Linked DNA regions of Homo sapiens. The protein of the gene in region 2 purifies or fractionates together with the protein of the main gene of each other region. This does not show direct contact. Each region holds a gene or a part of one and is shown on either strand. Other genes may lie near its edges.

The links.
Region 1: the proteins of ZNF444 (region 2) and BCKDHA purify together in Homo sapiens (affinity purification with mass spectrometry; one large-scale study listed by BioGRID and IntAct). This does not show direct contact.
Region 3: the proteins of ZNF444 (region 2) and ARHGAP18 purify together in Homo sapiens (affinity purification with mass spectrometry; one large-scale study listed by BioGRID and IntAct). This does not show direct contact.
Region 4: the proteins of ZNF444 (region 2) and CMSS1 purify together in Homo sapiens (affinity purification with mass spectrometry; one large-scale study listed by BioGRID and IntAct). This does not show direct contact.
Region 5: the proteins of ZNF444 (region 2) and CCDC6 purify together in Homo sapiens (affinity purification with mass spectrometry; 3 studies listed by BioGRID and IntAct, with this or other methods). This does not show direct contact.
Region 6: the proteins of ZNF444 (region 2) and FBLN1 purify together in Homo sapiens (affinity purification with mass spectrometry; one large-scale study listed by BioGRID and IntAct). This does not show direct contact.
Region 7: the proteins of ZNF444 (region 2) and AHCYL2 purify together in Homo sapiens (affinity purification with mass spectrometry; 3 studies listed by BioGRID and IntAct, with this or other methods). This does not show direct contact.

What each region holds. Positions count from the first base shown.
Region 1 is NC_000019.10:41,411,264-41,415,436, reverse strand, and holds part of BCKDHA (2-oxoisovalerate dehydrogenase subunit alpha, mitochondrial isoform 1 precursor), read right to left. Parts: intron 1,389-4,173; coding exon 1,280-1,388; intron 1-1,279. UniProt on the Homo sapiens protein: Together with BCKDHB forms the heterotetrameric E1 subunit of the mitochondrial branched-chain alpha-ketoacid dehydrogenase (BCKD) complex.
Region 2 is NC_000019.10:56,147,581-56,151,753, forward strand, and holds part of ZNF444 (zinc finger protein 444), read left to right. Parts: intron 1-4,173. UniProt on the Homo sapiens protein: Transcriptional regulator. Binds to the 5'-flanking critical region of the SCARF1 promoter.
Region 3 is NC_000006.12:129,578,269-129,581,714, reverse strand, and holds part of ARHGAP18 (rho GTPase-activating protein 18), read left to right. Parts: intron 1-1,583; coding exon 1,584-1,645; intron 1,646-3,110; coding exon 3,111-3,202; 3' UTR 3,203-3,446. UniProt on the Homo sapiens protein: Rho GTPase activating protein that suppresses F-actin polymerization by inhibiting Rho. Rho GTPase activating proteins act by converting Rho-type GTPases to an inactive GDP-bound state.
Region 4 is NC_000003.12:100,160,234-100,164,406, forward strand, and holds part of CMSS1 (protein CMSS1), read left to right. Parts: exon of another isoform or gene 1-196; coding exon 197-268; exon of another isoform or gene 269-471; intron 472-2,069; coding exon 2,070-2,199; intron 2,200-4,173.
Region 5 is NC_000010.11:59,791,557-59,795,729, reverse strand, and holds part of CCDC6 (coiled-coil domain-containing protein 6), read left to right. Parts: intron 1-1,132; coding exon 1,133-1,257; intron 1,258-2,618; coding exon 2,619-2,813; 3' UTR 2,814-4,173.
Region 6 is NC_000022.11:45,544,188-45,548,360, forward strand, and holds part of FBLN1 (fibulin-1 isoform D precursor), read left to right. Parts: intron 1-2,897; coding exon 2,898-3,017; intron 3,018-4,173. UniProt on the Homo sapiens protein: Incorporated into fibronectin-containing matrix fibers. May play a role in cell adhesion and migration along protein fibers within the extracellular matrix (ECM).
Region 7 is NC_000007.14:129,423,880-129,427,893, forward strand, and holds part of AHCYL2 (adenosylhomocysteinase 3), read left to right. Parts: intron 1-994; coding exon 995-1,063; intron 1,064-1,183; coding exon 1,184-1,262; intron 1,263-2,563; coding exon 2,564-2,684; intron 2,685-3,159; coding exon 3,160-3,166; 3' UTR 3,167-4,014. UniProt on the Homo sapiens protein: May regulate the electrogenic sodium/bicarbonate cotransporter SLC4A4 activity and Mg(2+)-sensitivity. On the contrary of its homolog AHCYL1, does not regulate ITPR1 sensitivity to inositol 1,4,5-trisphosphate.

The DNA.
Region 1 (4,173 bases), about 15 Mb from region 2:
ACCCTCAGTGCTGGACAGTCATTCTTGCAGAGGCGGCCAGCTCTCCCATGTGGAGAGCTCAGCGGCTCCCATGATTCCCATGAGGCTTGCTCGGTCCTGCCTGGTGCCCTCACAAGAGAACCCTTCAGCAAAAACAGGTGCAGTGCTCAGCACAGCTGGCGGGGGCCCAGCTTGCTGCCTGGTGTCTGGAAATCTTTTTCCGCACGGATGACACTAGACCTTAGACAAACACCACAGGGCGTTTGCCCTCCTAGAGCATGTGGGGCCAAGGGCCTGGTCCAGCTGTGAGCAGTAGACAGTCCAGGAGCAGGCTGCAAGCCATGCTGGTCCATGGGGGCTCTGGACAGCCACGTGGTCTGGCCCTGCTGAAGGGCTGTCCCAGGGCGAGTCCCCGATCATGACACCAACCCCTGGCCCTGAGCGCTTACTCTGTGCTGAGGGCACTTTGCCAACTGCCCCAAGACTGCCCTCAACAGCTGTCTTGGGAAGGGCTACCATCCCCCTTACGAATGAGGAAACAGAGGCACAGGGCAGTTAAGCAACTTGCCCCAAGCATCTAAGACAAAGGGTTAAGATATGCCTTCCTGGCCCTATCAGTGCTCGCTGACACTCTGAGGGTAGTCCCCATGCAGGGCCCCACACCAACAAGCTCCCTGGAAGACCCCACTCACTGCTCCCTGGGCTCACTCCTTCGCTCCCAGGCACTCATTCCTGCTCAATGATTTTCTTCATTCCTGGTCTTTGACCCTTCCTTCCTTTCACTCATCTGGGCTTGCCGGGCCCCTCTAATCTTGCACCGCACTCAGGTCTGTCAAGGTTCTTCCACCTGCTCCTGCTCCCCGAAGGATACAGCACCTGAGGAGGGGCCAGGGGATCACTGCACCAGGCAGACAGGGTCTCCTGCACAGGCCACACCCACAGCGAACGTTGACTTCACTGCATCCTCCCAGCGACCCTTGGATGCAGGTACCGTCATAATCCCTCTTCTGGAGATTAGAAAACTGAGGCTCAGAGAAGGGAAGTGACTTGCCCAAAACCTGACAACTGGTAACAAAGGGTTAAGAGCACAGACCCTGAGCCACTACACTTTCTGGCCTTCAGAGTGGGAAGACTGCCCCCTCCAGAGTCCTAACCCTGGCTTGTCTCTTTCTTGCTTGGAAAGCTCTTCTTCCAGCTCCTTAGACCTTCCTGGCACTATGCTGCTCCTGGAAGAACACTCAGAAAAACTAAAGTGTACACTTCAATGGGGACCACAGGGCCAAACCACGGACAGACGTACCTGCCTCCCGGTACTGGCCAAACACCAGGTCCGTGTTGTCCAGGGCGGCGGCACTCCCCACGTGCGTGCCCTCCTCACCATAGTTGGTCATGTAGAAGGAGATCCGGCCCTGGGGGTGTAGAGGGGACCGGGGTCCCACAATTGGTTATGCTGGGCAATGACAGAGAGCCATCCAAATCCTGCCCAGCTTCCAACACCTCCATGAATTCACAGTCCTCCTGAAGGCCAGTCCTGGGCCAGGCCATGCTGGGGTTCCTGCCTTTAAGAAGACGCTGCCAGACTGCTTAGAACTGCCAGAGGGATCGAGTTGCTGTGATAGAAGCCCAAAGGAAGCACCTGTTCCACCACGGAAGGGCATCGGTGAGGACCAGTGCGCAAAGATGGGGTGGGTGGAGGGTTCCAGGCAGAGGGAATGATAGACCATGAGGCCAGAAGGGCTGGGACATACAGTGGTAGGGGTGGGGAAAGATGAGGAGGGAGAGGAGATGGCACCCAGATAACAAAGGGAACGATACATTGATTTTACTCTGAGAATAGTGGTAACCTGCCGACAGTCTTCTCAAGGGAGCAATGTGGTCAGACCTGTGTTTTAGAATTGCTCTCAGGCTGCAGTGAGGTAAATGGATGGAGTCATCAAGGCTGATTGCAGCAAGCCAGGAGAGAGGGGGCAGAGGCCCAGCTTGGTAGCAGAGGGAGGCGGGAGAGGAGCAGGTGGATGTGTCTGAGGAAGCTGAGTCGGCTGTGCTAGGGGGCAGCAGACCCTGTCAGCTGGCCACACCAGTGCCCAGTTCCCTTCTCCCAAATCCCCTAACCTGAGCCTCAAAAAGACACGCACTCAGGTCCCTGGCCTCCCTTGCAGCCAGAGGTGGCCATGGGACACAGTTTTAGCCAGATATTTTGGTGGAAGTCTGCTTTTGCTTTCTGGATAGAAGAGACCACTGCTGCTGGTGCCAGCCCTACCCACTCCCTACTTCTTCCTGCCTTGCAGACAGCCATGAAGCTTGGACATGCAGCAGCCATGCTGTGAACACGAGGCCACAAGCAGAGCACGAAGGTCAACTCACCAACAACAGTGAAGCAGAGAAAGGATGGGGCTGGGTCTCAGAGTGTGCTGCTGAGCAGCTGAGCACTTCCTAAAGATGTATCTACAGACAGGCTAGGCACGGTGGCTCACACCTGTAATCCCGGTACTTTGGGAGGCCAAGGCAGGCGGATCACTTGAGGTCAGGAGTTCCAGACTAGCCTGGCCAATGTGGTGAAACCCCATCTCTACTAAAAATACAAAAATTAGCCGAGTGTGGTGGTGGGCGCCTGTAATCCCAGCTACTTGGGGGGCTAAGGCAGGAGAATCACTTGAACCTGGGAGGCGGAGGTTGCAGTGAGCCGAGATTGCGCCACTGCACTCCAGCCTGGGCGACAGAGGTGGACTCCGTCTCTAAATAAATAAATAAAAATAACATAAAAGAAAAGAAGTAGCTACAGCTGGGTGCAGTGGCTCACACCTATAATCCTACCATTTTGGGAGGCCAAGGCAGGCAGATCACCTGAGGTAGGGAGTTCGAGACCAGACTGACCAACATGGAGAAACCCCATCTCTACTAAAAATACAAAATTAGCCAGGTGTGGTGGCGCATGCCTGTAATCCCAGCTACTCGGGAGGCTGAGGCAGGAGAATCGCTTGAACCAGGGAGGCGGTGAGCCAAGATCGTGCCATTGCACTCCAGCCTGGGCAACAAGAGCAAAACTCCATCTCAAAAGTAAAAAAAAAAAAAAAAAAGAAATATCTACAGACAGAGGGAATGAGAGGGGAGAAAGGGATAGCAAGGGGGAGGGAGGAGACAGGGATGAGATGAGGTTTCTGGTGTGGGCAAGCAGGTGGATGGTGGTGCTCTTCACTGAGAAACGGACTAGGTGAGGCAAAGGAGCACGCCTGGGAGGAAGATGTCGAGGTCAAGTTCAGACAGGATTAGTTTGCTGTGGGACATCCAGGGCGAGAAGCCAAGCAGGGCTCTGACAAGCAGTCTGGCTGGGGCTCTGGGCAGCCCTGGCATACGGATGGACATGAGATCACACAGGGCCATGTGTAAAGCGGAACAAAGGCAGCCTGGCCAGCACCCTGAGGGACACCCCGGGGCCAGAGCTCCTCGCGGCTCGGCGGTGCCCTCCTCCATGTGTTCCCAGGCCTGGCTTTCCCGTTGCTGTGGGGGAAACTGATGAATGTGTGCTTTCTTCTAAGTGGGGAGCCAATTAAAAGTTAATGCACATTCCAGTGCCAAGTGAGTGGGCGGTGCTGAGTACTGAGGGCCTGGCAGGACTGTCCAGGTTAGCGTGGGTAAGAGCCTGCAACCAGCCCCCTGAGGATCAGGACTCGGGGCTACTGGCAGAGGCTCCTGGTTGCCTTCCCAGTATACTATTCCCCTCCTCTGTTAACAGAGGTCTCAATCTCCCGCAGGCAGCAACTGCCGGGACTAAAGTATTATTAATACATTTCTCAGTCTCCCCTGCAGCTAGGAGTGGCCCAGGAAATGTATGCAGATGTCACTAGGTGGGACTACCCAGAAAGCTCTATAAAGGTGGGGGTGTGGGATAGCTGGGATGTGCCATGTCTGGCCTTCCGCCTTCCCTCTACTTCCTGCCTGGAAGACCCCCTGGATCTAGCTGTGCCCCAAAACAGGACCCTCTGGATGTATGGTCATTGGAGTCAATAACTTCCCTCTTTGTTGACACTGGCTTGACTGGATCCTTGTCCCTGATACTAGGATTTATCAGGGGATCACAGCCCATTTCACATGGGCCTAGGGCGGTCCCCTGGAGCACTCCAGGAAGCACTGGGGACCCACCCTGTTTCTCAGGACTGTGCATTTCCAAGAGGAAGGGCTGTCAGGCCTTCTCCC
Region 2 (4,173 bases):
GGTCTTGCCGGCCAGGAATTCTCCTCAGACCGTGGTGTCCTGGGTTCTTACTGGGGACTCCTCCCCGTTCTGTGTGGCTGACCTCAGCCTCCCGCCCCCTGAAAGTCAAGGATACCCCCTGGTCCAAACTCTACCCCAAATTCATCTTGCTTTTGGGCTGGCCTGAGTCCCCCGGGGCAGGCAGACCCTCCTTATCATGCGTGAGGCTCCAAGGGCTCAGAGATGACTTCCCAGGGGCAGAGGGCAAAGCCAGGCCTCTCTGGGCAGGTTTGGTTTCTTGACCACACAGCAGGCAAGGGCCGACTCACGTTCTGGGTGAAGTCTTGGTGCACAGCCACACCCACCCACTCATGTCACCTGGGGCTGACACTTGCCACCGTGATGACCACAGAGGGCCCGAGGAGCTGGAAGTGTTGACTGCCTGGCCCCGTCAGGGAAGTTGCCAGCCTGGCTTAGAGTCCTGTCGGGGGATGTGTTATGTGAGCTGCACATGCCATCTTAAGTGTTCTAGTCAGCACGTTAAAAAAAGGCAAATTTACTTCATGGACCCCAATGTGTTCAAAATACCATCCTTTCAGTAGTGGCACTCTCCCATGGCTGGTGGCTGCTGTGTGGGGCCTGGGTGATGAGCGGTGGGCAGCCACGCAGAGACCTCTGAGAAGAGTGGTCCAGGCCACGAGAGCAGCCAGTGCAAAGGCCCTGAGCCACCTCGAGCGGCACAGGGGCCCTGAGTGAGGGGGTGTTTGCGGCCAGGCCTGAGTCCCCAGTGGCAGGAGGGTGAAGAGTCAGAGCAGTCGCGTGTTCCTCATAAGTGCGTACCGAGTGCCTGCTGGGTGCTGAGATGTAGCAGCAGAGAGGGGGCATCTCGGTGAGGCAAAGCGAGCAAAGCCTTCAGTCCATGGCAGCCGGGCGGCCTTCCTTCCTTCCAGAGGGAGCAGCTCCCGTCAAGGCTGCCAGTGGCCTCATCCGTCTCCCTTCTCATGCGGCCCGACCAGCCCCCAGACACTCCCCCCTCTTATTGTCTGGGATACAGCTCGCCCCTCCTCTGCTCCTGCCTCCTGGCACCTCTGTGCTGGCTCTGGCTTCTCTATCCTCGCCCTCCTTCCGGGTCATTGTTCCCAAAAGTGGGTTGTAACAAATCACAAACGCAGCGGCTTACAAATCACAAACGCAGCGGCTTAGAAATCACACAAGTCTGTTACAGTTCTGGAGGTCAGAAGTCCAAAATGGTTTGGTCTCATGGCCCAAAATCGAGGTGTCTGCAGGGCCACGTCCCTTCTCAAGTCTCCAAAATCAAGGTGTCATCTGCAGAGCCACGTCCCTTCTCAAGGCTCTAGGAGAGAATCCGTTTCCGGCCTTTTCCAGCTCCTAGAGGCTGCCCGCATTCCTCGGCTCATGGCCCTTCCTCCGTCCTCAGAGTGCTGCACTCCGACCTCTGCTTCCATCCCCCATCACTCCTCCGACCTTGACCTCTGCTTCCATCCCCATCACTCCTCCGACCTTGACCTCTGCTTCCATCCCCCATCACTCCTCTGACCTTGACCTCTGCTTCCATCCCCATCACTCCTCCGACCTTGACCTCTGCTTTCATCCCCATCACTCCTCCGACCTTGACCTCTGCTTCCATCCCCCATCACTCCTCTGACCTTGACCTCTGCTTCCATCCCCCATCACTCCTCCGACCTTGACCTCTGCTTTCATCCCCATCACTCCTCCGACCTTGACCTCTGCTTCCATCCCCCATCACTCCTCTGACCTTGACCTCTGCTTCCATCCCCCATCACTCCTCTGACCTTGACCTCTGCTTCCATCCCCCATCACTCCTCTGACCTTGACCTCTGCTTCCATCCCCCATCACTCCTCTGACCTTGACCCACTTAGGTCCTGTGGTCACTTATTTATTTATTTATTTATTTTACTTTAAGTTCTGGGATACATGTGCTGAACGTGCAGGTTTGTTACATGTGCCATGAAGGTTTGCTGCACATACCAACCTGTCATCTAGGTTTTAAGCCCCACATGCCTTAGGTGTTTGTCCTAATGCTCTCCCTCCCCTTCCCCCACCCCCCGACAGGCCCTGGTGTGTGATGTTCTCCTCCCTGTGTCCATGTGTTCTCATTGTTCAACTCCCACTTCTGAGTGAGAACACATGGTGTTTGGTTTTCTGTTCCTGTGTTAGTTTGCCAAGGATGATGGCGTCCAGTTCATCCATGTCCCTGCAAAGGACATGAACTCATTCTTTTTCATTGGTGCATAGTATTCCATGGTGTACTGTGGTCACGTCTTAGGTCACCTGTGATGACATTCGGCCCGTCAGGATAGTTCAGGAGAGTTTCCCCATGTCAGTGCTTAACTCCCTCCCATCCACAGAGTCCTTGTTGCCCTGAGACAGCAGATGACAGGTTCTGGGGATCAGACCGTGTACATCTTTGGGGCCATTATTCTGTCTGCCACAGAGGCGAGGTGAATGCAAGGTGAAGTGGGGGTGGAACAGAACCAACGTGGAATCTGTGAGCCTCGGGGTTTCGCCCTTTCCAGTTTCCATGACTCCTCAGAACAGGACCTGGCACATGGGTGCTGTCTAGGTAGATTTCAGCCACTGTTACCACTCTGAGCTCATGCCATCTGTTTTGTTGGCATTAAAATGTTCTTTTAGGAAAAGATGGTAAAAGTAGGTGGTGGTTATTGTTGCTTTTAATGTATATATCTTGCAAAATAAAAAAAAATCTTCCATTCGGGGATGCAGTGAGAGTTCTGTTGGTTCAGTGAATCTAAAAGTCGGGAAATCACCAGGCTCCAGGCCGTCGGGACTCTCCTGCGTTCTCTGCTTGCTCCGAGGCGAACCTCTCACTGTGGCTCTGGGATGTCTTTAGCATCTCTCTTGTATCTGTTACTCTCTCTTTTTAATAAGGGCAGATCTCAGGTTCAGAGCCTTCTCCTATCAGTGTCCACACAGACGGGAATAACACTGCCGTGAGTGATGGAATTTCCCATGACCTCTCTCTCTGGCACATGATACTGGCTTTCCATTTCCAGCAATGATACAACATGGTCTTAAGTCAGTGTTATTTTAGTTTTAGGTAAAAGTAAAGAAGAGTAATAAGAGCCTGGGCGATAGCCATTGTAGCTGACGGTGGTGTATAGACAGCTGACATCTGGGGGCGCTGCTGTGGATTGGGGTTTCTTGGCATCTGGTCTGTGGGAGCTGACGGTGACGCATAGACAGCTGACATCTGGGGGCGCTGCTGTGGATTGGGGTTTCTTGGCATCTGGTCTGTGGGAGCTGACGGTGGCGCATAGACAGCTGACATCTGGGGGCGCTGCTGTGGATTGGGGTTTCTTGGCATCTGGTCTGTGGGAGCTGACGGTGGCGTATAGACAGCTGACATCTGGGGGCGCTGCTGTGGATTGGGGTTTCTTGGCATCTGGTCTGTGGGAGCTGACGGTGGCACATAGACAGCTGACATCTGGGGGCGCTGCTGTGGATTGGGGTTTCTTGGCATCTGGTCTGTGGGAGCTGACGGTGGCGCATAGACAGCTGACATCTGGGGGCGCTGCTGTGGATTGGGGTTTCTTGGCATCTGGTCTGTGGGAGCTGACGGTGACGCATAGACAGCTGACATCTGGGGGCGCTGCTGTGGATTGGGGTTTCTTGGCATCTGGTCTGTGGGAGCTGACGGTGGCGCATAGACAGCTGACATCTGGAGGCGCTGCTGTGGATTGGGGTTTCTTGGCATCTGGTCTGTGGGAGCTGACGGTGGCGCATAGACAGCTGACATCTGGGGGCGCTGCTGTGGATTGGGGTTTCTTGGCATCTGGTCTGTGGGAGCTGACGGTGGCGCATAGACAGCTGACATCTGGGGGCGCTGCTGTGGATTGGGGTTTCTTGGCATCTGGTCTGTGGGAGCTGACGGTGGCGTATAGACAGCTGACATCTGGGGGCGCTGCTGTGGATTGGGGTTTCTTGGCATCTGGTCTGTGGGAGCTGACGGTGGCGTATAGACAGCTGACATCTGGGGGCGCTGCTGTGGATTGGGGTTTCTTGGCATCTGGTCTGTGGGAGCTGACGGTGGTGTATAGACAGCTGACATCTGGGGGCGCTGCTGTGCATTGGGGTTTCTTGGCATCTGGTCTGTGGGAGCTGACGGTGGTGTATAGACAGCTGACATCTGG
Region 3 (3,446 bases), on a different chromosome or scaffold from region 2:
TATACAATATATGTATAATAAATCGCACGTTCATTCATTCTTTGGTAAAGGATTGTTGCCTTTAACGATGAATTTGTTGATTAGCATTACGCAAAAATCTGAATATACCAGGAAATCTAGTTCCTGTTTCTTTAAAGTAGAACACAGGTACTTGAGAATCAGTCTGACAGCAATATCTAACTAGATGTTTTTCTTTAAATCAAGTCTCCTGAAACATTCAATTTGGTTTTCACAGAAATAGGGACTCTCTTTAGACCTATAGTAGTTGATTGTGTTATGTACTAGATTAAAAACAAAAATAATAATGATTAAATTATTTAATTTAAAAGATAAACCTACACTGTAGTTGGAAACAAAGTGGATCAGATGCAGTGCAGCAGGTGGAACATAGCGTGAGGGCCCAGAGAGCCCTGACTGTCCAGTGTGCCAGGGACACAGGGCAGGGAGAGAAAGGAGGAGAACCAGATGAGCCATTCCATGGGTGGTGAGGAGCGCTGCTGCTGTACCATGCTCTTCCTAATGGCTTGAATACAAGTCAGACCTGATTTTCTCTTCTCAGTTCCAGAGAGTGTGTCTTCAGGGCCTTATCTTAGTGGTCCACTAACCTTGCCATGCTTCAGAATCCACTATAGAGCATTTGAAAAGCAGTTTCTTGGGCTTTATCCTAGACCAGTTAAATCTGAGTTTCTAGAGCTCTCCATCTGAATTTTTAGCAGGTTTCTCAGGTAATTCTTTTACAGAAAGATAATGACATAATTTGCTTCCACTCTGAGGGTCTGTGCTGCCCTCATTTGCACAACTGACAGAAGAGAATGGCTTATTCTTTTTTTTTTCTTTTTGGAGACAGGATCTCATTCTGTCACCCAGGCTGGAGTGCAGTGGCACAATCTCAGCTCACTGCAACATCCATCTCCTGGGCTCAAGCAGTCCTCCCACCTCAGCCTCCCGAGTAGCTAGGATCACAGACACTCACCACCATGCACGGCTAAATTTTTTGTATTTTGGGTAGAAATGGGGTTTTGCCATGTTGCCCAGACTGGGCTCAAGCGATCTACCTGCTTTGGCCTCCCAAAGTGCTGGGATTACAGGCATGAGCCTTCACACCCAGTCAGAAGCATGTCTTATTCTTCACATGCATCTTGCACACTACTGGAGTTGTCAGCACAGCAAACCCATGATAAATACTTATTGAATAAGAGTAATGTGAAAACTAAAGTGGAAACATTTAATAGTTTTATGAGGACCATTTTGGCTTGTATACAAAGTGGATAATCATATTAATAATTTGATTGGCAGCGGAAATGTTACATTAACTTTTCTTTTGAATTTTACAAATTTAGATACTGGTTTACTACTTTGCCTTCAGATGTATAATTCCATTTGTTTATTTTAATTTACAGGTGTGATACTTTTATTACCTATTGGGTACATTTAACAGATGGGAAAATACAAACGTGTAGATAATTACAGTGTGTCTAAGTTATGAATTTTCCATACCAGCCAGAATTCCCCAAGCACGTTAAAGTGATTTACTTGCAAGCTGTTTGATGATACAACTAATCGGTTTGTTTTGTCCCTCATAGTGGGGTTGCCCAGACTCTCAAGAAAGGAGAAGTTTTTTTGTATGAAATTGGAGGAAATATTGGTAAGCACTTTTTTTTCTCTTTACATTTTATATGCTGTTTTGATATTGCCAGTGGTTATTATTTATGTCTTTGGAGGAAGAACAGGAAATTAGAAGTAAAATATACCATGCTTTAGATAAGTTGCTGAATATTGTGGATTTCTTTAATGGTTTGACCTTTCTCTTCAGGCTCTGTTTGAGCGCCTGTACAAATGCCCATCTATGTTCAATTTCAGCAAAGGCAAGTTCCCTATACAGTAAGAATAACTCCTGGAATGGTTAATGATGCAAGTTTTTCAAAACTCTCTTCTTTGTAATATACTCATGTCACATAGTAAAGGAAGTAGTTGAGCTTATATAAGGCTAAGATAACACTTTATTATAGTACAGTATTAGATATTTTTAGTAAAAGCAGATTTACTTTTGCCATAGTTGATTTCCTGCTAAATTTTATACACATGCACACACACTCAAATTCACATTAGTAATTTAAAAAATGGAATGAATTAACTTTGACCATGTTTTATATTTTACCCTTTTGTAATTATCAGTGAGTCTTAACCATCTCTTTTTAAAAATTTAAAATAATCTTTTTTTCTTTTTTGACTCTTGGAAATGGTAAGGGTAAAATTATTAAGAAATAAATGAAATCATGTTAAGTTCAAAATAGTAATTAAAAATAATTTTGCAATAAATTTTGTAGGGTGTTTTTGTGGGAATTAAAAATGTTAGTAAATATTAAAAGTTAAATATAGGAATGTGAAGGTTTATTCTTAAATAGGCCATGACACTAGAAACCTGGAATTGTTAACTCTATTAGTAAAGGTTATTTAAATATTAATAGATTTGATTTCTTATTTTCCTTTTAGATCTTGGGAATTAAGTGTAGTTTCTTAGGTGGATTCAAAACCATTGCCCCTCCTAATAAGATGATTAAGCTTTTAAGGAACTATTTAAAAGCCTATCATACAAAGTATTTTCAGCTTCCTAAATTAATTTGAAACCTATTCATTTGGAGAAAGACTACCAAATTTATTTTTCCAATTGTTGGCCAATTCTTACAATATTTTGAGAAACAGGAAAGAATGAGAAGTTTTTTTTTTATTATTATTATTTGTTTTGTTTTGGAGACAGTGTCTGCCTCTGTCACCCAGGCTGAAGTGCAGTGGCGCAATCTCAGCTCACTGCAACCTCCACCTCCTGAGCTCAAGCCATCCTCCCACCTCAGCCCCCTGAGTAGCTGGGACTACAGGTGCAAGCCACCATGCCTAGCTAATTTTTGTATTTTTTGTAGAGATGGGGTTTCATTATGTTGCCCAGGCTGGCCTCAAACTCCTGATCTCAACCAATCTGCCCACCTCGGCCTCCCAAAGTAGAATAAGTATTTTGAAGTCCAAGACTTAAGAGTTAAATAATTAAGCTTAAGTTTAAAATTGCATACCAATCTACCTGCTGTATTAAACTGACACAACATCTATTTTAACAGGGGAACGCTGCCTTGATGATGACACTTACATGAAGGATTTATATCAGCTTAACCCAAATGCTGAGTGGGTTATAAAGTCAAAGCCATTGTAGAAGACTTAACAAGCTGCAGATAACCATGTGGACTTCTGTCATAATTCTTGCTGAGTCAAGAGTGTAAATAAAAGAAATGGCAGGACTCATATTATTCAGTTGTACCCAAGTATTTAAAAATGACTCTCTTAAGCCTTAAAAAGTCATAGATTTGTGCTGCTGCCAGAATTATATTAATTATTATTAATGTTATTATTAGAAAAAAAATTTCTGGAGTGAGAGTAAAGAGGCTTAATTAGTTTGT
Region 4 (4,173 bases), on a different chromosome or scaffold from region 2:
TGACTTTCTCAAATTCTCTCAGCCCAACCGCTGCATAGTAACCTACGGTAGATCTTCCAGCATCTCTCTTTCTGTAGAATATTACCAAGATACTCTGAAGAATACATGCATGGCAGAAAGTACTTTGGGGTTCATGCCACTAATTGACACTTTATCATGAAAAGATTAAAATGTTCTCATTTGTATTTCTTAATAGCCTAAAGAATGTTTTTTGATACAACCAAAGGAAAGAAAAGAGAATACCACCAAGACCAGGAAAAGAAGAAAGGTAATATTAATAATTTCTTAAATTTGTATGGCCCCACATGGTTTCCATCACATTTTTATATATCATACTTTCTTGAGGCAACTATTGTAATCCCCACCTAAGAGATGCAGACATTGTAAGATTCTTTGAGGTTTGGTGACTTTCCTAAGGTCACTACTAATAAGTGTTTCTGTTGGAGCTAAGAATAAATTCTTCTGACTCCTATTTCAGTCCTGTGGAGTGCCAAATATCTTTGTTACCCACCCTATGTTTTCAGTGTGGTCAGATGTCAGACATAGATTTCTAATTCTAGAAGGAGTCCAGAGCTATCCTCCCCCGGCCCTTCTGGCTCTGTCCATGAAAAGAAATATACCAACCTCCTTTTTCTATTCATTCCGGATTTTAAGACCTTATACCTTAAAGTATGAATAAAAAGAAAATAATAAGCAGATGAAGGTAGTATGAGGCACTTCTGACTAATTTGGAACCATAAATTAGGTCAAAAAAGCTCCCCTACCTTGCATTTTGATATTTGCTGGTGAGCACAGGAAAGACTCTTTCTCATATACAAACTTTTTTATGGCTCAGCCTTGGAGAAAGTATGGTTAGCTATGACCTTCTCCCACAGTTGTGAAAACAGCAGTGTAATTCTCTCCCTGCCAAGAGGGGTCTGCTGCTGAAGTCAGCCGAGGAAATACGATTGGGATTAGAGGAAAGAAGATGGACTCAAACCTATTACTTAACAGCAAGCTTTTAGAAAACTGAGAGTGTGTGTGCATATGTTTTCTTTTCTTACAAATGGCCAAATAGGAAAATGGGAGATGCCAAATTGGCTGAGGTTTGGCAAGTCCTTAAATAAGTGACTTTAACTTCGCTTTGATAATTTGTACACTAATGGCCTTCTGGAGTGTTAAGTTCTTGGTGGCTCAAGGTCAAAACTCTAGCTAGATAGTTTAGTCTTGACTGAGGTCACACTAAAATGTGCCCACTGATGACATATTTTTAAAAGTTAATTTCTTTGACAGAGGCTTGACCATTCTTGGCAAGTGTCTAGAAATGAGGATATTGTAGAAGGAGGGGGAAAATCTGGGGTCAGGGGTGGGGAATGCTCCTTCTGGATCTTTGGTGGAACATTAGAAGGAAGTGAGAAGGGAAGCTTATGATGGAAATAAATGAATGATTGTGGGTTTCTACTACTGCAGCATTCAATACATGCTACACAAATGAGTCCAAATCAAAATCGATGTTGGAAAGTATTTCCTGTAATATTTTTTCTACTTTGCATAGGGCCACTTTAATACCATCAGTTATCCAAGACCTGAGAATCGAGGGTGTTAAGTCCCCTTCTCAGTAGGCCCCTATGCTCAGATTCCTACTGCGGGTTTTACACTAATGACAGAAATCCAAACTAAGACTCAGCACCTCAAAAACCAGATTGGGCAAGAAATTCTCAAAATTCTAATCCTACAGGAATATAAATCATCTAGGGCTAAAAGAGAGCTCTCCATAGCAATGAGATTTCTTTACTTTTAACAGAAAATAATACCCCAGTATGGAGATGCCTGCAAAAATTTAGTTATCTTGGAAGTCATAGACCAAGAGTTACAGGGAGCTTTCTAGATCATTTTTTCATTTTTCAAAGCAATAGTTATGTCCAAGAAGTATTTAGTGAATTTTCTCAAATGTATTTATTAAAACCCACATTCACACTTGGCTAACACCAAAAGCTATGTGCCGTTTAAATGCCAGAGGAACTAACCTATTCCAACCAAATGCCATTTTAAAATATGTCGTCCCATTTTTCTTCTTTCTCATATCTTAGAAGAAAATTACTGATGTTCTTGCAAAATCAGAACCAAAACCAGGGTTACCTGAAGACCTACAGAAGCTGATGAAGGACTATTATAGCAGCAGACGCTTGGTGATTGAATTAGAAGAACTGAACCTGCCAGGTATAGCCAAGCTTCAATTTTCCTAAAGACAAGGAGCAAAACATAAGTATCTGTTATGGTTAGGTGTCTCAGGCAGTCAATTAACACATTTTCCAGCGGGCATGGTGGCTCATGCCTATAATCCCAGCACTTTGGGAGACTGAGGCTAGAGGATCGCTTGAGCCCAGGTGTTTGAAACCAGCCTGGGCGATACAGTGAGACCTCATCGCTATTAAAAATAAGAATAATAATAATAATTGTTTAAAGAGACATACTTTCAGGCCAGGCACAGTGGCTCACGCCTATAATCCCAGCACTCTGGGAGGCTGAGACGGGTGGATCACTTGAGGTCAAGAGTTCAAGACCAGACTGGCCAACATAGTGAAACCCCATCTCTACTAAAAAATACAAAAATTAGCTGGGTGTGGTAGCACACGCCTGTAATCCCACCTACTTGGGAGGCTGAGGCAGAAGAATCACTTGAATCTGGGAGGCCGAGGTTACAGTGAGCCAAGATGACGCCATTGCACTCCAGCCTGGGGGACAGAGCGAGACTCCATCTCAAAGAAAAAAAAGAAACATAATACTTCTTTTCCTCAATCTAATAGTTTTAACTGATAGATTATATCAAATAGTTTTAACTGATAGATTATATCCTTACTGGATGCTAAACAGTATTTGTCAAATCTAATATTAAGATTTGTGATTGTATTTTTTTATTCAAAAGGTTAATTGTTGGGTGTGCATTTTTAACAAACTATTCAATGAGTAGGAATTCATCATGAGGATAGAAGTTGAAGTACACATTTAAAAGTATGGATGTGAAACACTGATTTACTCAACTATTATAGACAAGAACTTTAGCCTTAATAAGCAATTTAGTTTTGTTGTTGCTCTTATTATGGATTTCTAGTCATGGTTTTTAGAATAGTATTTTAGGTTGCAGGCCAGACTCTTTCAAGCAAACTGTCAAAAGGTAGGAACAAAATTCTGTATGTTTTGCGAGGCTGACACTTTGCCTCAAGGGATTCTTAGGCCTACTAGAATTTTAGATCCTCTGCCTTAGTGTATTTATAATTAAGCTAAAAGATATTACAAAATTTAAACAGCTAATTTTTTAAAAATATTTATTTATTTATTTTAGAGACAGTGTCTTGTTGTGTCGCCCAGGCTGGAGTGCAGTGGCACCATCGTAGTTCACTGCAGCCTCGAACTCCTGGGCTTAAGTGGATCCTCTCATCTCAGCCTCCCGAGTAGCTGGGAATATAGCCACGTGCCACCATACCCAGCTTAAACAACTAATTTTAATTAATTTCAAAATTATAATGCATCCTTTAACTCTTTTAGGCAGGGATGGGAGGAAATAGATGTTGTCATAAAATCAAACCATAAAAGTTTGGGTACAACTGCTTCAGATGAGCTATTTATAGACTACTAGGCATATCTAATATTGCTTTTGGAAAAAGTAGAGGGTGGCTTGATTTCCGTTTTCCATTACAACTTTATGCTTTCTAGAAGCTTGAGAAGCTGAAAAACAATCTGTTCCCTGAATTTTTATAATTCTTTTGTGATATCCTTTTTCAAAAACACACATTGGGTTTGGAGACATGAGTGCCCTGTCTGTTTTCCAAGGAGATTACCCTTTAGGGAATTGAAGGAGTGCATTTGCACATGAGCAGGATCTGGACTTTTAGACTTACTAAGCCCAGACAGTTCCAATAGCAGTTATAATCCACTCTTCTCAGCACACCACGGCCTCTGCTGTGAAAACTATGTCCTGACTGCACTATCACAGGAACTATTCTAACAAAACCACTTTTGAAGCTTTAACTGAAGTTTAATTTTTACTGTGACTCAATGGTCAGTTTTCCATTCTAGTTCTTTGTTAGAGCAACTTGAACTTAGGAAGGATTTGTGAGCAGTGGGACCACTGCTGTTCTGTAACCTCATGGAACATCGTAAACCTTGCTCCTCTCTGGAGTTAGAGAGAGTCAA
Region 5 (4,173 bases), on a different chromosome or scaffold from region 2:
AAACACCACATGTTCTGACTCATAGGTGGGAATTGAACAATGAGAACACATGGACACAGGAAGGGGAATAACATCACACTCTAGGGACTGTTGTGGGGTGGGGGGAGGGGAGAGGCATAACATTAGGAGATATACCTAATGCTAAATAACGAGTTAATGGGTGCAGCACACCAGCATGGCACATGTATACATATGTAACTAACCTGCACATTGTGCACATGTACCCTAAAACTTAAAGTATAATAATAATAATAATAAAAATGAATAAGAAAAAAAATAATAATGGCCAACTTAACAGTTATGAGGTGATATCTCACTGTGGTTTTGATTTGCATTTCCCTGATGGTTAGTGGTGATAATCGTCTTTTCATATATCTATTAGCACATTTGTGTATCTTTTTTAGAGAAATGTGTATTCAAGTTCTCTGTGCATTTTTTCATTGGACTATTTGAGTGTGTTTGTTTGCTTTGAGTCATAGGAGTTACTTATGTATTTCGCATATTCACCCCATACCAGGTATATGGTTTGCAAATATCTCCTCCCATTCTATAGGTTGCCTTTTCAGTCTGTTGACTGAAAGTTTCCTTAGCGCAGACACTTTTTAGTTGAATGTAGTCCCACGTATTTGTTTTTGCTTTTTTTTTTTGTTGCCTATGTCATATCCAAGAAATCATTGCTAAGATCAATGTCAGGGAGCTTTTCCCCTATTTTCCTTCTAAGAGTTTTATAGTTTAAGGTCTTATAGTTAAGTCTTTAATCCATTTTGAGTTGACTTTTGTATATAGTGTAAGAGATAAGGTCCAGTGTCACTCCTCTGCATGTGAATATCCAGTTTTCCCAACACCATCTGTTGAAGAGACTGTTCTCTTTCCCCGTTGTGTATTCTTGGTGCCCTTTTTGAAGATCAGTTGACCATATACGTGTGAGTTTATTTCTGGGCTCTCTGTTCTATCCTAGGAATTAACATTTATTTCCCTTGTTATCCACACCATTTAGTGAGCCCATCATTCTTTTCATCTGTTTGTATTTTTGTGGGTGATAGAGAACTACTGCGATTTAAAACCTCCTAGATAGTTGAAGACACCAGATAGTTGAGCTTAAAATGATACTTAATTTGTTGTTATATTTTAGGTCTATCATATGCAAGTCACACGGTTGGTTTCACGCCACCAACTTCACTGACTAGAGCTGGAATGTCTTATTACAATTCCCCGGGTCTTCACGTGCAGCACATGGGAACATCCCATGGTATCACAGTAAGTGTCCGTGGGGTAGGAAGCAGCACTTTACTCCTGAAAGTGGTACCGACTGGTGTTCTGGAGAACAGGATCGGTGCCCTTAGACATTTGCCCTTCTTCCTGCCTCCTCCATCCGTTCACCTTGAAACTGTAGAGACTTAAACAGTTTGATACCAAATTCTGGTATTGAAACTAAAATCCTTCCCAGGAGACAAAACTTTAACTTCACTTCCTATGAAAAATTACCCTTTGTGAAATATAATTTGAACTCTGGCCAGTGCTTTGATTGAACTCTGGCCAGCTCCTTGCATTATTGTTGGTTGCCATAATGTCTAAAGATATTTATTGTCTGCACCTTCACAGTTCACTGACCTTCAGTATTCTTCCTGAAGTTAGCCTTGTTTGTAATGTTACTCAGAATTTTCTCTCCTCGAATTACAAGGAAGCTTAAGTGCATCTGGTTCCAACTCTACCCAAGGGAGTTTTTTCTTTAGAGTCGGCAATATAGTTGACTAATAGAGCCATTAGAAATGTAGCTAGTAGAGTGAGAGTATTATTAAGGGTATTTCCAATAACAGAAATACCAATATTTCAAAGAATAAATTATAATATTTTAAAGAAGAACCCTATTCTAAGAATGCACTTAAGGTATTTCTGAAGCTGTTTGGCCAGTTTGATGGACTTTATGTAAAAGTAGGAACTTTTTTTTTTTTTTTCCTCACTCTGTCATCCAGGCTGGAGTTCAGCAGCATGATGTCTGCTCACTGCAACATCCGCCTCCGGAGCTCAAGGGATTCTCTTGCCTCAGCCTCCCGAGTAGCTGGTATTACAGGCACACGGCACCACACCTGGCTGCTTTTTGTATTTTTAATAGAGACGGGGTTTTGCCCTGTTGGCCAGGCTGGTCTCGAACTCCTGGCCTCAGGTTATCCACCCACCTCTACCTCCTAAAGTGCTAGGATTACAGGTGTGAGCCACTGCACCCGGCCTCAAACATAGAAACATTTCTGTTGAGCTGTATCTTTCAGGATGTGGACAACTTATTGGAGATAAGCAATAGAGGGAATTGGTGACACACACGGAAAGAAAGATTTAAGGGGATATTTTACAGCTCTCGTTGAAGGACCCAAGTCCAGCAGTTTGTTCAACACAAGTTGTGCAGTAATTTTATGTAGCTTTTTCATAGGTGGAAGTGTAAACACTGCCTTATTTAAATTTTATTACTAGTTCAGAAACCAGTAGGGATGAAGAAAGAAATCCCTGGTTTCTTGTCTTTGTTGGTTAGTGTTTGATTAGCCCCAGTGCCAAGTCAGGCTGTGTTAGGTAGAATGAGATCCACCTGTACCTAGACTGACTTGCTGTTCCTGTCCCCTCTGCAGAGGCCTTCACCACGGAGAAGCAACAGTCCTGACAAATTCAAACGGCCCACGCCGCCTCCATCTCCCAACACACAGACCCCAGTCCAGCCACCTCCGCCTCCACCTCCGCCACCCATGCAGCCCACGGTCCCCTCAGCAGCCACCTCGCAGCCTACTCCTTCGCAACATTCGGCGCACCCCTCCTCCCAGCCTTAATGCATGAGCTTAGTCTGAATTTCAAGTTGGGACTCATCCAATGGAGCCGTCTACTCAACGCCAAAGGCTTCCTTCTCTGGCATATTTGGATATGACTTATTTGCACTGAGGTTATCTAGGCTTCACTATCCATTGTGTTGTAAATGTTTGTCAGAAATGCAGCCAGTGTTGTGGGTCTACAACACTAACCAGACGACTTTTTCCATCAGTGTTTTACTTGAATCTTCATGTACGTCCATTCCCTGGCTGGAACCTTCGCTGTTTGGTATTTGGTATTTCAGCAGCAGTGTGCAATTTTTGCTTGGCCCAGAGCTTCATTCTCCTGGCTTTTAGGTTTGTAAAAGAAAAAGGGATATCTTTTTTATATTTTTTTCCATGAATCTGCAGAAAATTACTGAGCTGTTGTTACCCTCCTCTCATTATAATAGTGTTTACCAAACATACCAATAATTCAGCACTACAATTCAGACCTTTGAAAATCTGGCTTTCAGTGTAGAACAGAAAGTTAGATGAATCAGTGCCCAAGACATATTTTCTGTTTAACAGAACTTTCTACAGATACATTTTTTACAGGTTATTTTCATTGTGTTATTGACATCCATGTCTCTCGTAAAACAGATGGCCCAAAGTAATGAATCATGTGGCTGTACCTTCTCCACATAAATGGGATGGATAATTATCGTATATTAAGATGTGATTCTCTTTTTTATCCTTAATGTTAATCTACTTAACCTGGCCCCCTCTAACATGAGTCGATAAATGTTGTCCTACTCACCGGTGGTTTCAATGGCTAATTAGAATGTGTTATTTGATTTCTGCTGCAGAAGGCAGTGTGATTGTAACAAAAACAATGCGGCTTCCCCCTTTCGTACTTCATTTGTGTTCTCTTAAAATAGAGTTTGAACAAATATTTTAAAGGTGCAAAATACCATTAGAAAATACTATTTGAAATGGACATTATCGCATTATCTTGGCATAATGGCCAGAAAATATTGTATTGCTTGGCAGAAAAGAAAATAAGGTCTAAAGGAAAGTAGCACATTAGCATTGATGGCTGTTCATTTCACCCAGTATAAGCAAGTGCAGTGTACAAAGAAGTATATTCTGAATACATTATTTCCATTCATTTAGCACAAATAAATCATTTGGTTTCACTTTGCAGTGGAACACTGAGTCACTCTTTTCTTAACACGTGCAACATCTTAATTTTTGTTTTTCAGCAGTTGCTGTTTTGTACTTTGGTAGTAAAGTGATTTTTACCACCTGTGTTTGCATATTTATATATGCTGTGGATGAAAATAACTTACTAGAGAATGTATATTTTATGACAAGAATGTGTATCTGTTGGATATAATCAGAG
Region 6 (4,173 bases), on a different chromosome or scaffold from region 2:
GCGATTCCCCTGCCTCAGCCTCCCGAATAGCTGGGATTACAGGTGCACACCACCATGCCCAGCTAATTTTTGTATTTTTAGTAGAGACAGGGTTTCCCCATGTTGGCCAGGCTGGTCTTGAACTCCTGACCTCAGATGATCCGCCCACCTCGGCCTCCCAAAGTGCTGGCATTACAGGCGTGAGCCACCGCGCCCGGCCTGCCTCTAACTTCGTGTTGGAGTTAGGCTTTCCCCACCCGCAGAGACAGGGAGAAGCACCCTGGCCTTCCGGATGACGACATTCCCCAGGCATGTCCCCAGCCCTTGAGAAAGACACTCCTTGGTTGCACATCTCAAAGGGACAGAGAAACCGTTTACATTTGCAAGTTTTTCTAAAGTAGATGCTTCTAAGGAACATGGAGGTCAGCGCCTGTAGTCAGGTTTGGGCTGGAACCAAGAGAAAATTCTTTTGGCAGCATTGATCTTTCTCAGACAGGCATGTCAAGGGGGCTGGGTCTACATCCTGGATACCTGGTCTTGGGCCAATGGCAGCCACGCTGAAGTTGGGTCAGGTCTCTTGGTATGTGGGGGTTGGACAGAGTTGTTCCTGCCAACAGTCTTGTGGTTCTCAGATAACACCAACCTCCTGGGCTGATGGGAAGGTCACATGAACTGCATGTCAGCCCAGGGCCTGGCACATACTAGGTGCTTGGCAGATGTCGTGTCTTGTATACGGATTAGGTTCTGAGCTGAGCAGACACTGAGAGCTTTGGATGGCCCTCCACAATCGTCCACATTGCCGATGACACCCTGTTTGGTGCCGTGCACTGGCTCACAGGACGGCTTCTGCAGCCTGACTCAAACATGGCAGGTCCTAACATTTTGCCATGAGAATTTTCCTTCCTGATGAGATGGTCGCAGGGGTTGGATATGCCACAGTGAGCTGTGGTGTGCATGATTCTCAAATCGGAGGACGGACGGTGTGAGGGGTCCTGGGCTTAGTTCACAAGAACGTGTATGGACAAGGAACAAGATTCACGAGTTGAGTCTCTCAGGCTTGTGTTCAAACCTGACTTCTGCCATTTCCATGGCCTTGAAGAAGTAACTCAGTCTTTCCTGGGCCATGGTGTCCTCATCTGTAAAACGGGCATAGTAGGACCAACCCCATAGGGGGTTGTGAGGATGAAACGAGATTAAGCATGTGAAGAGCTTATCACAGGGCCAAGCACAGGATGAAGAGCTGGCGGTGTGGAGGCTGCTGGCTTTATTATTATTTAGTAGAAGTAGTGGGATTCCTGGCTTGTGCTTCCTCTAGTCATTCATAAATTGCTGAAAAGTCGGCATTCATATCCACATTAGTGGACAATATTGTGGATATAGAACCAGAGCCTGGCCAACCTTGCTATGTGACCTTACTAACCATTTGTTAGGGTCCTGCCCCGGGTGTGTAGCAAGAACTCGGTCCTGCACTGGGGAGTGTCTCTAGCGGGGGATGAGAGACCACACTGGACAGGTGGAGGCCAGGCCTGGTGTGTGGGGGCCACAGAGATGAAACACGGGGTGGAAGGCTATTGGACGTTCTGTGACAGCCACATAGTATAGATTTAAGGCTTTTCCAGCCACAATCTCTGTTGCAACCGCTGAACTCTGCTGTGGTAGCAGAGAAGTGGCCAGAGGACCATGGTAAAAGAATGAGTGTGGCAGGGCACAGTGGCTCACACCTGTAATCCCAGCACTTTGGGAGGCTGAGGCAGGTGGATTACTTGAGGTCAGGAGTTCGAGACCAGTATGGCCAACATCGTGAAACCCTGTGTCTACTAAAAATACAAAAATTAGCCGGGCATGGTGGTGCACACCTGTAATCCCCCAGCTACTCAGGAGGCTGAGGCAGGAGAACTGCTTGAATTCATGTCCACATTTAGTGGACAATAGCCTCCCGGAGGTGGAGATTGCAGTGAGCTGAGATTGAGCTACTTGTACTCCAGCCTGGGCGACAGACAAAGACTTTGTCTCAAAAAAAAAAAGAGTGAATGTGGCTGTATTCTTTATTTTATTGTTATTATTATTTTGAGACGGAGTCTCGCTCTGTCGCCCAGGCTGGAGTGCAGTGGTGTGATCTTGGCTCACTGCAACCTCTGCCTCCTTGTTCAAGCAATTCTCCTGCTTCAGCCTCCCGAGAAGTTGTGACTACAGGTGCGTGCCACCATGCCTGGCTAATTCTTGTATTTTTAGTAGAGATGGGTTTCATCATGCTGGCCAGGCTGGTCTCGAACCCCTGACCTCGTGATCCGCCCACCTCGGCCTCCCGAAGTGCTGGAATTACAGGCATGAGCCACCATGCCTTGCCGGGCTGTGTTCTAATAAAACTTTATTTATAAAAACAAGTGTTGGGACAAATTTGGCCCATAGACTATGATTTGCTGACCTCTGCTTTAGGTAAAGGGGACAGTTGAGCAGTAGTTCAGAGTTGCTGAGTGGCCCAGTGAGTTCTGTGCATTGGAGTATGAGGAGTACTGGCGTATGGGCTGGGTGGCCGAGGACTTCCTTGTGTGCCGTCATCTGTTTAGGATGCCATCTTGGAGGTGAAGTGGAGAGCACAGGATCAGATTTCCATTTGAGAACTAGAATGGACTCTGGCAGCCAGGTCGGGGCAGACTTCCAGGGGCCAAGGCTGGAGGCGATCGCTGCCATCCTGGCAGGAGAAGTTGTGGTCGAAGCAGGCAGGAGCAGGGATGGAGGGTCCGGAGCCACCAGCGATGACGCCTCTCCCTCGGCCACACCCCCCGGGACCTCTGTCTCTCCGAGTGTGTTAACCTGAGGGAGGTGGAGAGGAGATTTTCTGTTCACTGACCCTGAGGGCTACTGTGGAGGCAGGGACGTATGATGCTCTGAGCGGTGACCCTCGTTTTGTATTTCAGACATCAATGAGTGCAGCAGCAGCCCCTGTAGCCAGGAGTGTGCCAACGTCTACGGCTCCTACCAGTGTTACTGCCGGCGAGGCTACCAGCTCAGCGATGTGGATGGAGTCACCTGTGAAGGTGCGGACGCCCCTGCCTGCTGAGGGGGAAAGCACCCCCTGGTCTTGCCATGACACAGCAGCACGGCCTCTGACTTTCAAAATCCACAGGGAAGAGCCTGCTGGGATTTCTTCACCTGACAAACCTTCCATGTCCACCCTTGGAGGCAAGCGGGTGGTTTGCTGTTTTCCCTCCAACTGAGGTTTTTTTTTTTTTTTTTTTTTTTTTTTGAGACACGGTCTTGCTCTGTTGCCCAGGCTGGAGTGATATGGTGCAATCACTGCTCACTGCAGCCTCAGCTTCCCAGGCTCAAGTGATCCTCCCACCTCAGCCTCCCAAGTAGTTGGGACCATAGGTGTATACCACCATGCCTGGCTAATTTTTTATTTTTAAAAAATTAGAGACGGGGCCTTGCTGTGTTGCCCAGGCTGGTCTCGAACTCCGTGGCTCAAGTGATCCTCTTGCTTCAGCCTCCCAAATTGCTGGGATTACAGGCATGAGCCACCGTGCCTGGCCCCCAACTGAAATTCTAATATACTTTTCCCATCCTTAAGCGTGAGGGTGGGAAGGCAGCAAACCACTCCTGACTTGTTCTTTAATAAATGTGCACGGCGGTAATTACAACATGCACTGGGACCTTGGGCCGCATATCTCAGGTCTTGGTGGTGGTGCATGGCTGAGAGGTAAGGAGGGGGCTCAGGGACCACCTATATCCCTGACTCAGAGCTCTAACTCTTCATCTGTAACATGATGATTAACTTCAGCCTCACCAGATCATTGGAGGATTAAACTAGATGACAGCAATTACAGGCAATTAAGGGCAATTACGATGATTACCATTTTCATGTAAGGTGTGTGTGTATTTTGTTTGCTTGTTTGTTTTTGAGACAGAGACAGCTCTGTCACCCAGGTTGGAGGGCAGTGGTACAAACACGGCTCACTGCAGCCTCCATCTCCTGGGATCTAGCAATTCTCCCACCTCTGCCTCCTTGAGTAGCTGGGCCCACAGGCATGCACCAGTATGCCTGACTAACTTTTTTGATTTTTTGTAGACACAGGGTCTCACTTTGTTGCCGAGGCTGGTCTCGAACTCCTGGGCTCAAGTAACCCTCCTGCCTCAGCCTCCCATGCCTGGGATTCCAGGCATGAGCCAGTGCACCCAGCTGAGGTGTGTTTC
Region 7 (4,014 bases), on a different chromosome or scaffold from region 2:
TATGAGGAGGAGATGGGCAGATTGCCAAATATGCATTAATAGCTTTGATGTCAGTCTGCTGACTGATGACTTGTTTCTAGCTGCCCTAGGAGGTCCCACCTGGTAATTTTGGTGACAAAAGCAAGTACCATGGGTGTTTTTGGCTAGATGGTTGAGCAAAAAGGTGGTCAGGCTTCATAGGAAACAAAATAGGAAAGGGTGGCATTGGGGGCAATTTCTAGTTCTTCTACTGTCTGAATCACCAACTCAAAATACAAGGCTGACAATGCTGTCTTTGAATTCAGGAGAAGCAAACTGAAGGAGAAGCACAAAAATCATCACAGCTATGGTGAAACCCTGTCTCTACAAAAAAAAAAAAAAAAATACAAAAGTTAGCCGGGCATGGTGGCGCACACCTGTGATCCCAGTTACTCTGGAGGCTGAGGCAGGAGAATCACTTGAACCCAGGGGGCAGAGGTTACAGTGAGTCAAGATCATGCCATGGAACTCCAGCCTGGGCAACAGAGGGAGACTCCATCTAATCAATCAATCAATCAATCAATCAATCAATCATCACAGCTTCCTAAGTCCAAATATACCTCCCCTCACAACCTGGAGAGATTGTCCCTGGATTTGACTGATCATTGTTTATTTCAAGACAGTCTTTAAAAGAAATGCCGATCCTCAGAAGGAGGATATTTTGCTATAGAGAGTGGAAAATTCAAGAGAAGTACACTGATATTTGGCATAAGCCTCAGTGTCATATGACCATCTGTATTCCTTTTTAAATAATTCCAGAAATCTTTTAGCTATTAGTTTCATCAGATTTTCCAGAATTTTAGTGGTTTCATTTAAATGTCAGTCAGTTAGTTCTTATATATTGAATAGCTGCTTTTTTTCCAGCAGTGTTAGTCAGGAAGTGTTTGGAAAATGGTGGTCATGCTTCTCTTCCCTCACTTCTCAAAGGCCAGCGACTTTGTCCTAATCCATTTGTGTCTTCACCTTTGATCACTAGGGCCGCCTGCTGAACCTTAGCTGCTCCACAGTGCCTACATTTGTGCTCTCAATCACTGCTACTACTCAGGTAAGGCTTCCAGAGTGGGATAGCAGTAGTCTGGAGAAGGTCCTCAGACCCACCAGGTTTCACTTGCTTGGGTAGATTGCCATGAATGGCACATCAGCATCCATCTCTCTGCTTTTCTAGGCTCTTGCCTTGATAGAGCTTTACAATGCTCCTGAGGGTCGCTATAAGCAGGATGTCTACCTGTTGCCCAAGAAGATGGGTAAGTATTTACTCTTCCATCTCCATCCTTACCAAAGTAGTTCAGAGTCTGAGGTTAAAGGAAGTTTGGGGGCATTAACTTACTTAAGGATGGGGGAAAAAAGGTACCTTCATCTTGTAAAGTAGGAATTAGGATTCCTAGGTGCCATTCCCATTTATTTATCCCATTTTCTACATGTGTTGCCCTAGCGAAGTTGTGATATTATGCTGTGATTTATTTTACCTGCCTGTGAATTTTAAGGATTTTTTTTTTCTTAAAGTATCTTTATGTGGGAATCTCAAAGGAGAAAAAAAAAATCTTCCCTTAAAAGAGAAGAATCATCTCCTACCTTGTGACATCTGACTTACTCCAATTCTAGGCTGCCAAATAGCCCCTACCAAACTTTTCTCAGACGACACAAGACTTTCTTACTACACCTTCCAACACCAATCCCAGTGCTTCAGGCCAAAGGAGAGATGTGGAATAGGAGCTATTTAGTTATGTGGGTGTTTTGTATAAGAGAAACATTAACCTGTCTTAAATTTTTAAAGAGCCTGCCTCAAGCACCTGAACTGATACAGTGTGTTTATAAACTCCTCAGGCAAAGATCAGGTAATAAATAAGCTTCTGGTTTTGTTTTGCCTTAGCACTAGGTATATAACAACTGTTAAAAGTTGATACATTTTCCCTTTAGTAGACACTTTAGAAGGATATAAAAGCAACAGCACAGTCCATATTCTGACAGAATGTATAATGAAGTTGGGAGACCAAACAAATACATAGGAAATGACATAAGATTATGAATAAGTACTATGTAGTCAGATAATAGAATGTGAACAGAAACCCATAAGAATTAAGAGTACTAAAAGCAAAGCAAACAGTTCATTTATCCCATTTAGTATCCTTCTTAGTTTTTCCATTCAAGTTTCCCCAGGCATTAGTTGTTTTAAATGACCCAAAGTATGGAGTCCAAGGCAAAACTCAAGTTGGAGCTTCCCATTATTTAGTTCCCACATTATCCTATTCCTTCTTTTAAATCTTAATGCCTGTTGTTTCTTTCATCTCTCCTGCACTTTTCTGGAAGGCAGGGTTCAAAGCTGAGTTAGTAAGGATGAATTATTAAGGCTTTGGAAAGCACTGGGCTTGAAGCTGAAGGCAGCTATTCCTTAGAATTGAGGACCAGTGAGCGAAGGTTGAACATTTTTCATTCAGCTCCAGGAATTAGAAGGTGTCTTTGAACTTTTTAAGGCCTAGCTTGGGGACAATAGCCATCAGATAAAAGGCATGAATGCTTATACCAGGGCTTCTGTGGTCTGTTCCAGATGAGTATGTGGCCAGCCTACACCTGCCTACCTTTGATGCCCACTTGACAGAGCTGACAGATGAACAGGCCAAGTATCTGGGACTCAACAAGAATGGGCCCTTCAAGCCTAATTACTACAGGTGCCTTGGGCTCCCCAGAAATCAGGGACACCTGGGCAGTGATGAGCTTCCTGCACTGGAATTGGTCTTTGCATCCCCAACCACATATGCTTACATGAACTCAGAAAAATGAACCCACTTCCCCTCACTGCCACCTTCAAAAGACTCTTCAAGGCCTTAAATAGTATTCCCCTTCCTGAATTTGCCTTTTGGAGATAGAGAGGTGGAGTTTGGGTAAGTGGCTATTTGCCTCATTAAATAAAGTTCCCCTTCCTCAATTCCTTTCCCCATTTCATCTTGTTGCTATGATTTTTATCTCTTTATGGAGAAATATTGGCCTTTTTCAATGATGTGAAAAGGAAACACAGTTATTTCCTGTCACTGTACACTCCAGAAAAGTCTCTGCCTCCCTGTTACACCTTTAGGCAGGCTCTTCATGTCCCAGCATCCCCATTAGCTGATAACATCACAGTCTCATCTTTCTTTTTCCCTCCAGGTATTAAGTTCCTGTAACTCAAACCAGAATTTTTAAGGAATAGAACTCCAAGCCTTTTCTCCACTACTATACAAGAAAGAATTCAGCAAGCTGCTTCTCCAATCAAAGCTGCCTGCCGTGCTCACCCTGTGTGTTAGGTTATTTATTTATTAAAATCAAGAATCCTGTGCCTGTAGTGTTGGCCCAGAGTGTGGTTACTGCCCTGAGGGCCATGAAAGCCACAGAGGATGGGCTGAGGAAGGAAAGAAATGGGGTTACTGCTCCCAGTGCATCATTTGCATCATTCCCCATTGACTGAATCCTCAGCAGTGGCCGTTTTTCCTCTTGTCCAGGCTCACGAGTTAGTCCAGGGATTCCATACTCCCTATTCCCTGGAGTTTTCTGGAATAAATTTTCAGCACCTGCTTTTCTCAGCTTGGCCCTTCCCCGGGTGAGGCCGTTTGGAATTAACATGGCCAGTGTTTCACACAAGATTGGGTTCCCAATCTTGACCATCACTATCACTGCCTTCTTTATATAAAGGCTAATAAGGAAGGAGTGTTATTTATGGCTTTGCCAAGCTACATCAAGAACTCAGCTGTGCTGTGCCTACCAGGGGTCTCCTTTCTTACCCAGGACTCCTTTCTTCTCCTTGAATATTTATGTCCATTTTAACACTTCCTGGTTGCAAGAGGGATGTGCCTCCATTATTTCCTCCACAGTTTTGGTATTTGTCAGACATTTGTTCTGCTGTCTTTCTAATCCAGCCAACGTCTGCTCAGGAAGTGGGGCCAGCTCCACTGGGACCCATAGTTTTACTTCCTTGTCATTTGATTGGATAGTTTCCAAGGAAGCCCCTCCAGATTGGCACTATCT